Regions from separate parts of the Homo sapiens genome. Here region 2 is linked to region 1. The links come from fine-mapping of genetic effects on gene expression. A gene starts in region 1. The other region holds a variant in brackets. All regions are shown on one strand. Distances are from middle to middle.

Evidence for each region.
Region 2: its variant is fine-mapped to the expression of NHSL1-AS1 in whole blood (INTERVAL, PIP 0.95).

The regions. Positions count from the first base shown.
Region 1 is chr6:138,689,205-138,694,577 of GRCh38, forward strand. It overlaps NHSL1-AS1 (NHSL1 antisense RNA 1), which reads left to right and starts at 2,464. Exons shown (of 4, transcript NR_033896.1): 1 at 2,464-2,764; 2 at 5,189-5,343. It overlaps LOC124900217 (collagen alpha-1(III) chain), which reads left to right and starts at 3,522. Exons shown (of 2, transcript XM_047419637.1): 1 at 3,522-5,373. The coding sequence starts at 3,559. The coding sequence ends at 4,488. It also overlaps a transcript of NHSL1 not described here. RefSeq lists an enhancer at 1,859-3,058 and silencers at 3,181-3,230, 3,241-3,590, 4,071-4,130, 4,171-4,310.
Region 2 is chr6:138,592,530-138,597,902 of GRCh38, forward strand. It overlaps a transcript of NHSL1 not described here. Among named protein-coding and RNA genes, the nearest start is that of NHSL1, 96 kb to the left of the region's middle. RefSeq lists enhancers at 683-977, 1,006-1,075. The variant C/T (reference allele first, on the strand shown) is at 2,784.

The DNA.
Region 1 (5,373 bases):
AAAACAAAGACTCGGCCATCCTGGACCTCAAAGGTCCTGCTGTCTGGCAGAGGGGTGCAGAAGTCCCCTTGGTAAATGTGGTGATCGAGGTGAACCAATGCCATGGGAACAGCCCCTCAACCTGGGGGTGTCAGGGAAAGAAAGTAGGAGTCTTCAATGAACAGAATAATAACATGCATTCTCCCCAAGGCATGACAAAAAATTATTTTGGATAACTTTCTACCCATGAGATTTTGAGGAATGGCAAACTTGATGAAATACCTCTCAGGATCATTGAGGCCAGCAGGGCCAGCCCACAGGACTAAAATACTGTCTCTGTATTGCAAAGAGTGTTTATACATTTTTTTAAATTGTTCCACTGACATTCTCACATCCTTTCTTATGGTAGAAAGCTATTATTGGTCACTGAAATATGCTGTCCCCAACTGCTAGAGGCTTTTGGTAAACTGCTGGATTCTGTTAATTGCTCCTGGGGAGACTCATTAAATGGTTTATCTGACAAGAAGGGTGGAATTAACGGTCACAGTTATCCTTAGGACTGTTTAAGGAACATATCTAAACTTTGCTCCCCATTTCCACACCTTTTTTTTTTTTGAGACAGTCTCGCTAATTTTTGTATTTTTGGTAGAGACGGGGTTTCGCCATGTTGGCCAGGCTGATCTTGAACTCCTAGCCTCAAATGATCCGCCCACCTTGGTCTCCCAAAGTGCTGGGATTACAGGCATGAGCCACTGTGCCTGGCTCCACACTCTTCTAAAGGGAAGGAACACAGGCAGTGGGACGACAGGCGAGACAATCAGAAGGTTTGGGCTTCAGGCCCGGATGTGTCATTACCCACAGCCTAACCTGGGGTGAATTAACTGCAATGCTGTTGGACTGGATTTCCTCTCTGGGTAAGAATTCACGAAATGGATGGCCTTTACGGTCAATTCCAAGTCTAAAAGTCTAGCCATCCATACTAATGGAGTATGATATTCTGAAGACCTGCCTAAAATGGCAGAACAACTTCAAACTGTAGTTTTTACACAGAAACAAGGTTTGAGGCATTGTTTTAAAAGAATCCTAACAGATGGTAATGCATAGGCATTTCACTGCTTTTAAGCACATAAAAAAGCAAAGTGTGTGAAGGTGAAAGAAACCACAAAAATTAATGTCTTGATAGTCAGCTTTCTTCTCTACATGTACATTTATACTCAGGCATAATTATATTCAATAAAAAGCCTTCTTGCATGATTATTAAAAAAAAAAAAATGGGGCCACGTGTGGTAGCTCACACCTGTAATCCCAGCACTTTGGGAGGTCGAGGCAGGTGGATCGCCTGAGGTTGGGAGTTAAAGACCAGCCTGACAAACATGGCGAAACCCTGTCTCTACTAAAAATACAAAAATTAGCCGGGCGTGGTGGCGGGCGCCTGTAATCCCAGGTACTCTAGAGGCTGAGGCAGGAGGATTGCTTGAACCCAGGAGGCGGAGGGTGCAGTGAGCTGAGATTGCACCACAGCACTCCAGCCTGGAAGACAGGTATGAAATCACAACCACTTAAGATTCAAACAAACTTGTGAAAAGTTTTGAAAAGAGTTATTTCAGTTACTGTAATTAGAACAACCTTAGTTAATATGGAGAATTTGGGGGATTTCTGGCTATGGACAGTAGCCTATTGGGGCATATGTACTAAAGAACAGAGAAAAGTGATACATTTAAATGTAAAACCAAACTAGTAAAGGAAGGAGTTCTTGACCTTCAGGGAGTTTCCTCTTGTTTTTTAATTCCCACAATAGATCAGTTCACCTATCAATCAGATCTCCCTCATCACATTCTTTGTCAAGGGTAAAATTCTGGTTCTCCCACGTACCTACACCCTAGACAGAAAACGCATAGAAGCAACTCGTGATTGCCGCATAGACCATGACATCCTACTAGGACAGTGTATCCTACCATATGCATGAAGTCATCACTCACATTAAGTAGATATATTCTGATTATGTCAACAACCTTATGAGATCACTTTGATTCCTCCCCACTGATTTTTTTTTCTTGGAGGGGGACGCTCTCCCAGGTTGGGAACTGTCCACAATTCATATGAATGTGTTGACGGCACAATCAAAGAGATGAACGCAAAAATGTAAAACTGCCACGAATTAATTATACAACTTGGAGAAAGATGTATTATAGCAAGCAATCTCACTGAAATTAAATAATTGAAAATTTTGAACTCTTAGGCTGTAAGGTAGTTAAAATATAGCTAAGTTTTTCTAGCTAGCTGGAAAACGAGCTATTCGAGATTGCATATGAAGTGATTCTAGGAGAAAAAACTATTTCATCCAGAGCTGCTGAAATCTAGGCGTGTGTTACATCAACATCTCCCCTCCCACCCAGCAATCCATCAACCATCTCCAATTTATTCTTTACACTTAGGATTATGACCAAGTTCACGTACTTAAAAGGGAGAAACCACAGAGACATCACACTGAAAGTTTCTCTGCTTTGGGCCAGCAGGAAATTCCAGTTGCTTCATTCACCGGAGCCAGTTAAGCTGCTGAAATGAAATGGATCACCGGAGAGATCACTATATCAGGACATAGACTTGACTTTCAGGGTTGGAGGAAGCCGGACAAAGATGAATGGGATTCAGAGCCTGAACTCAAGGTCAACGTCTTCTGAATCACAAAGAGCTGGTGGGTCAGTCTGGGAGAAGAAAGAAAATTCTGCGCCAAATGGGAAAACCCTTAAAGTCTGCATAGTTTTGCTTGTCGGTAAGAACACAGGTAGGCGGCGGGAAGAGAGGTGGCAAGCAGCCCCAACGCTCGCCGAGATCCCCAGGGTTTTACAAACGGATCGTCCTGAAGTCTCCAAAACTGTAACTACTATATGCCCAAATTTATATTCTCCCCTGGCTTTTCCAACAGGCTACCTGCCTGTGACAGTTTTCCCACGAACTTGGCTCTCCTCTGTCTACAGCGCCCCGGGGTCTCCCAAACAGACAGACACAGACAGACAGAAGGAGCAGACAAGGGGACTGTCCAATTCCCACCCTCCGCGCCCACTCTCTCGAGGTAGCCAAGACCCTCCAGGAGTCCGAAAGTCACAGAGCGCTCTGCGCCCCTGCCACCTGCCCAGCCTCCCGCTGGGGTCCGGCAGTCCCCACTGGAGACCCCGACATCGCGGGGCTCCGCGGCCCCCGCGCCGACCCAGGGCCGCCAGGGGGCGGGCGGGAGCAGCTCTCCGGGTGCCTCCCCCGCCGGTTCCCCTCCCCCGGCCCGCCGGCCACTCACGGATTTTCACTCGGCGGTGGTCCAGGCGCGCAGCGGCGGCTTGCAGGGCGTCGAGGCGGCGGTGCAGCGCGGCGGTGCGGTGGCCCAGCGCGGCCGCCTGGCCCTCGAGCTCGCCGAAGATGTCCCCGGCGCAGCGCGACAGGTCGGCCAGCTGCGCCAGCAGGCAGCCCAGGGCATGCGAGCTGACCTGCTCCAGCGAGCGGAAGAGTGGCGCGCCCGCAGCCCCGGCCCCCGCCGCCTCGGGCCGGCGCAGCCGCGCGGGCTCCAGGGTCCTCTGGTGGAAGGGCATGGCGGGGGCGGGCCGGCGGCGCGGGATCCCTCAGTCTGCCTCCCGTCGGCGCGGGGCGCCAGCCTGCATCCAACACAAAGGAAGTCCCGGGCAGCGGCGGGGCGCCGAGGGAAGCCTGGCGGCCCCTGCCCGCAGGGGAGAGGCCGGGCGGGCAGGAAGGACGGACGGACGGACGGGCGCGCGGGCGAGCGGGCACCCGGGCGGCGCGGGGCAGGAATGGGGTCCGAGCCGTGGCTGCCTGGCGCCCGGCGGCGTTCCTCCACCCGCAGGGCTTCGCGGGCCGCGCGGCGAGAGGAAGTTCCAGGGGCAGCTCTGGGCGGCGGCGGCCGCGGCGGCGAGGGGAGCCGCGAGTCCCGCTGAAGTTTGCAGGCGGGCAGGAAAGCGCCGGCTGCTCCTTCCCTCCCTCCGGATTGGAGAGGGAGGAGGAAGCGAGGGAAGTGCCGCCGACACCGGGCGAGAGGGAGGGGAGGCGAAAGAAAGGAAAGGGGGAGGAGAAAAGGGCCGGCCCGGGAACCACCTGCGGCTCCCGCGGCTGCCGCGCCCAGCGCCCGCAGCCAGTGGCGGCCCCGGCGCCTCAGCGCACCCTGTCGGGGCGGGTGCGGGCGCACAGTCCCGGGACGCCCACGTCGCCGCCCCAACTCCCCTTGGCAGCCCCCGGGCGGTGGGGCAGAGCCCTCGCCCGCCCCCCGGGCCGGGGTGCAGCGCAGTGCGGGCGCCGGGAGGGCGGAGGCGCCAGGACGGCCGCGGCCAGCTCCGCTCGCTCTGCTCACCTGCGCCCCTGCCCACGGCGCTCCGCAGTCAGGAGCGCCCCGCCCCGCGGGGAACGCCCCGGGCCCCTCGGGGTCCCCCTGCTCTCTCCTACTTCCCTTCTGGAAGGTGGCCAACACTTCTGGGCCGCCCGGGTGGACCTCAAATAGAACGTCTTTAAATGTCCGGTGGCCAAGGGTTCTGTAGCCGACTAGGAGTCAGCGTCCGACTCGGAACAACTCAAGACCTCTTTTCAGGGGGCGTCCAGTGAGTTTTTTTCAGCAAGGTGACTCCCCCTGTGGCTGCCTGCTACTACAGCTGGAAAGGTCCAAGCTGAAATGTGACTAATCTGAGTTTCTTCCACCAAGCATGTTAGTTAGGGGTGGAGGACTAGAACCTAGAACCCTGAATTCGAGCCTGGAAGATATGTAAGCCACATGCTATTGAGATCGTGGTCATGGGACACCCGCTAACACAAACCTTCTGGTAGGAAGTTTTTGAGAAGACTGGGTCCAATATCCCCAAGCTAAAATCCCACTGGCCCATCGCTGTGTTTGCTCAGAAAAGGAATCTGGGTTCTTTGGTTTCTGCTTTCCAGTTGACCCTGGTTGCTCCTCTGTTTTACGGCATTTTGGGAGTCGGTCTCCCAGAGCAGCGCTGATTGTAATGAGAAGCGCGTTCCCTCTCTGGGGGACAGGAGCAGTGGGAGAAAAATGGGCCTGGGAAAGAGCTCCTCCAAATAAAACTTATTAGACAGATACGGGTTATGGTGTTGGTGGTGGTGGTGGTGGTGTTTTGGTCTTTATCCTGTTGTACAGCGCCTCATTTTTTACAATGTGGGCCAGTAACTATTTCGTATCACCTACTCTGACCACCTTCAGGGTTGTTATGAGGCTCAAAGGAACGGCTGCTGTGAAAAAACATGCTTTGCAATTTATGAAGCACTGGATAAACATCAGGAACGGTATAAAAGCATGCTGCTTACTCAAGAAATACTAGTTGAGTGCCTGTGTGTTGGGCACTGGCTAGAGATAAGGTAATGTGCAAAGCTGGCTCTGTCCCTGCC
Region 2 (5,373 bases), 97 kb before region 1:
AGGTGGAGGCTGCAGTGAGCCAAGATTGCTCCACTGCACTCCAGCTTGGGCGACAGAGCGAGACTGTCGCACAAAAAAACAAAAAACAACAAAAAACAAAAAACAACAACAAAAAAAACCCCTACATATCCAGAACTAAAGAGTGAAAACTGACAAGTATGCAGGTAATTGCCCTTAAGGAAAAAGGTGTGTGGATATATTTTAGTGGGCTGGTCTAAATATTTTCTAAATATCGTAAGACATATGAAACAGGGTGGCTAGGAGCTGCTATTTCAGCTTTTTAAAAGCAATTGTGATGGAGCAAAAATTTTGCCTGTAGACAATAATTAACCTTTCTCCAAAAGCATCACATATATATCATTCTATATACCAAATGCCACAGCCACAGGAAGTCAGTTGCCCACAGCCTTATAAATCAGTTTACTTGCTTCCTCATTTTCTGTTATGGACTTTCCTAGCCAAACTCTGTCATGGCAGTTCACTTCAAAATTAAAAATAAAGTTGATTTAATGGAGCCTGGATGAATCCCATCTGAAAGCCATTAAAACATACACACCCACTTCCACACAAACCAGAGAATCAGTAGAATTCAAAGACTTATTGAATCCTGAAACTGTAAAGGATCCGAGTGACAAATAATTCACATGTCCTATTAATCACAGGAGGTAGACGGGTTCTGTGATTCCAGCACTGACACGGAGGCAGTCAGGAGCACTGCTAGGACTAGAATCCCGTTGTCCTTGCCCCAGTCCAGGCTCTGCCCACTCTCCCATGCTTCAGGTCTGGCTCTGAAGTTCGTGATTCCCCGTTCATAGTCTTCAAGTACATCAGTGAGTCACGTTTCCGTTTCCTCTCACTGTTCCAAATGCTGGGCTTTGGTAGCACAGAGTTCATTCATTCACAATCATGCTAATTCACTCATACAGAGAGAGAGTGCTGACGCACTTAGGAATTATGACTTAACATGCAATTCTCAAATCAGTGAGGCCAACGGCTAACTAAACTTAAAAATAAAAGGAAATCTAGCCCTTAGCACTCAAAATACTTCCTTTCAACCTACTGTAAAACAACAAACTCACTTTCATTAGGAGATGAAAAGTGAGTCATTTCTTTCTTCCAGTAGACGGTCTCCCCAGGCACAAACTCATGCACATTATATTTCATGGGACCTTTTAAATATTTACTTGTTAGCAGTATTCTTCCTTTCGGGTCAAAGATTATAGTATTTAGCAACACAAAGAAAGCTGAGGGATAGAGTTATGAATTAGTAAACTGCTTTGCCAAGCCTTCCATTTGTTAATTCAGTCCAACTTCAAAGAGGATTTTAAAGAGAGGTTCAGCTGTCAGAAATTAACTCTAAGAAAACTGCTGAATCAAAAAGTGACTTGGGCAGTTTTTCCCAAACTGGTGTTAAGGAAAAACTGTTCAGTTGTAGGTATAGGAGCAAAAAGTATCTTCCTATGCAAATAAGCTTAGGGCAAACAAAGTTTTTAAAAGGTTTTTTGTCTTGTTCACTACAGGACTTTCCCAGCCTTTGACATGCTAATGTTGCTGTAAATTTCCAGGGATGTGGTGGGGGTCAGTTTATTTTGATCACATTAATTATGTGGTTGGGGGATGTGGATAAAATAGGAGAAATGCACTACACTGATTCAGCAGCTTCTAAGCAACAGAGAAAGGGTTTGGCTAAAGTACTAGTATTTTTGGTATTCAGTAGCAAAGAACAGTTAGACTCTCATTCACAACTATTTCAGGACAAGGTGGGAGTATCTATTCAGTCATTTGGGAGAATGAAGCTACGTAGAACTCAATCCTTGAGAGCTTAATTTACTGCCAATAGGACTGCCAATTTCGCGGGGCTTCTGCAACTCCTCCCCGGCTCTAAGCAAAAACAGCCCCTGTACCTGTTCTTGGGGACTGACGTGACATCGTTGAGTGTTTTCCCTCAACTCTTTGATCTTCATGCACTTGTCTATTTCAATGTTTTTTGACCATGGCTGTACATCAGAATCACCTAGGGAGCTTTTCACTCCACAGATGTATGGGCCCATTGCCAAATCTACAAAATACAATACGATCCCCAATAAGCAGCACCGAGAGCTGAAAACCACTCTTCTGCTTCCTAGGAAGAGCTAGACAACAGACAAATAATTGAGAGGGTGTGTACTTTAAATTGAGCACGTTGACACTGACAAGGAAAGGGCTACATAGCAAGATTTTAATGAGACCCCAAGTTTACAGATTTCTCTGTATCACTCACTCAAAAGTGGACTTTTTCTTTTCTAGATGATTTTCACAAAGAAAGAAAAATGTACTTTGAAAGGAGCAAAGTGCTTAAAACAAGGAGTGCACCACAAAATCGTTCAGGGGCCGCCTGCTGTGGTTAGCTGGCTGCTGGTTCACACGTGAGCCCAGACCCTGTTCCCCAGCACAAGCCCCATCCAGCACATGACCCTAATTTGCAACTCAACATTTCACTATATGTCTTGGACCTTTGCAAGTCACTTTAGAAATTCAAAACCAGAGATTCCCACTATGCTGAAGCCAAGCCTACTGTACAATATACATCACAGGGTGTAGGCCTCTGCAGGCCTTCTAAGTACGTCAATCACCTACAGAAGATAAAAAGTGATTTTTTGAAAACCATTTTCTTTCTAAATAATATTTACTTAAGCTATTTTATGCATACAGTCTCTAGGCAGTATATGTCAGGAAAAGGACCAGCCACTAAGAAGAGGAAGAGAGTTAAAAGTAAAGATATAGGCTGGGTACAGTGGCTCATG[C/T]CCGTAATCCTAGCACTTTGGGAGGCCAAGGCAGGAGGGTCACTTGAGGTCAGGAGTGTGAGACCAGCCTGGGCAACATAACGAGATCTTGTCTCTGCAAAAAATATTTAAAAATTAGTTGGCTGTGGTGGCAAGCACCAGTAGTCCCAGCTACTCAGGAGGCCAAGGTGGGAGGATCACTTGTGCCCCGGGAGTTCTAGGCTGCAGTAAGCTGTGATCCTGTCACTGTGCTCTAGCCTAGGCAACAGAGTGACACCCTATCTCTTTTTTTAAAACAGATATATTAAGTCTTTTTTACAAAAGTGAATTTCAATAACTTCAATATCATAGGGTAACCTGGAATCAATTATAAAAAGATTCTCTCCCTCTTTCCTTTCTTGAATTTTTTTAATCAGCAGAAAAGATATTTATGTACAATGAATGGGTAAGAATAGCACAGCATACAGGTGAAGTTGAAAGATTTCGGAAACAAAACGCTGAGTCCTATGGAGACAATGGGTAAGAGAAAGTGGAAAGTGAGGGGTCCAGAGGTTGCCATGCCACCCTTGCACCTATGTGCCACGATCTGTATAATTGGCAGAGGGACTCCAACATGGCCCGACTTTCTCCTCCTTATTATTAGCATGGTGGTGTTTCTGGGTCTCTTCCTCTCCAACACTGCCCTTCTTCCCAACCCCAAGAGAAAAAAAGGCCATAAACCCTACTTGGAAGCTAAAACCAAAAAATATCCAGGATGAAAGTATGTTTTCCTTTGCAGGTCTTATGCAAAGGAAAAGGCATAGAAAGGTAATGGTCTGAATGCCTTCCAGTAGTCAATGGTCGATCCAAGGAATGCAAAGGGGCAGAGGAGGCAGAATCTACCTCTGCCTGGCAATGGAGTAAACCTAGACACGCTGCTGAAACCCACTGGACATCAGGACTGAACAACGAAGAGGTTAAATTACCTCCCCAGGGCTCTCCCAGCATTCCATCCAGGGTTCCCATCCACCAGCACTGACGCTACTTGGCAGTTTTGAATAAACAATACAACATCTCAACTATTGTTAAACTACAATGGGAGGCCTCCAGCGTCATGTGGAAATTATTTTTAAAATGAAAGCTTTTTCATCAACTGCATGAAAAAGCACTTAATAAATCCAGAAACAGTCTAAAAGGATTATGTGGACAAGTCAAAATGTGATTTTGATGGACTAAGTGGATTGCTGAGACACATCATGACATTTAAAACCAAGTGCAGAAACTGAACTGTATTTCATTTGTTAAAACGCTTAAGATTATAAAGGAGTGATACATTTGGCAAGGTAGCCAAGGTTCTTGAAAGAATCAGCAGCGCCGCAAAAGGACATCGAGGAGCTCAATGCAGCTAATTTAAGCAGACCTGCTCCTGAGAGGTGAACCAAGCTTGGTAAGTTTTTTAAGTTCACGTCCGTTTCTCACCCACATTCAATTGGCGGGGGTGGGGGGGAAGTTCTGAAAGCTTCCATGAGATAATCCTTTAAAATAGTCTCTAGAGGCAGCGGCAGCAGCAAATTATTCATTCCTACCTTGCGTGAGTTAAGCGTGACAGAAAAACTCTCTCAAGCAGAGTTTGAAGTGCTCAGGGTTCCCGCCTTGCAATCAGAAGTTAAGACCTACCAGGAGATTGAGATCAGCCTGGCCCACGTGGCAAAACCCTGTCTCTACCAAAAAATATAAGAAATTAGCCAGGTGTGGTGGCGGATGTCTGTAATCCCAGATACTCAGGAGGCTGAGGCAGGAGAATCGCTTGAACCTGGGAGGCAGAGGCTGCAGTGAGCCAAGATCACATCACGGCACTCCAGCCTGGGCGACAGAGTGAGATTCTGTCTCAAAAAGAAAAACAAAAAGTTAAGACCTGCAAACAGCGAATAGAATACAAAAGCCTAATTCAGTGCTGGCATATGAAGCATCAATCCATAAAAATGGCTGGTTAGTTTCCGAAGTTTTGATCTGGTGTCATATAGCCTAAAGAACAAAGAATTTACAGGAAATGATTTTAGGAGCCTGGAAATTTTAATTCCATCTCAGATACTGTTATTTCCTTTTAATAGTAAAATCTACGTAACTATTGATTTGACAAGTTTTTCATTTGGCTGCCTGTGCTATTAATCATCACGGAACTTTAGTCCAAAATTCAAATCAAACATCACCATACACGCCTCACTTCCAGGTCCCGGGTACATGTTGTTCGTTTCTGGTTATTCTAGTGTAGACTCCTTGCTTACTTTGGAATTTTGGCAGGAATTGTTCACCATTTCTGAAAAATCATATCACTGACCACCTAACCGCTTGTAGTGTTTGAGTCACTAGCTTTTCATCATGGTAATTCCACACACATGTAAGCATCCAACGGTTTCATTCCATCTTCCAGTAAGTACAGTTTTGTGTGAGCAATGAATATGAAAAGGTAAAAATGGCCTTCTTTAATTTCTCCTTACATTGCAGGTAGGACATTATATTGACTTTTTAAGCATGCATGAATAGATGTATTATATTGGCTATGTGATACTCATTTCAGGGTAGAAAAAAGATAATAAAAATATTTCTTATGACTGAGAAGCACTGACCTACA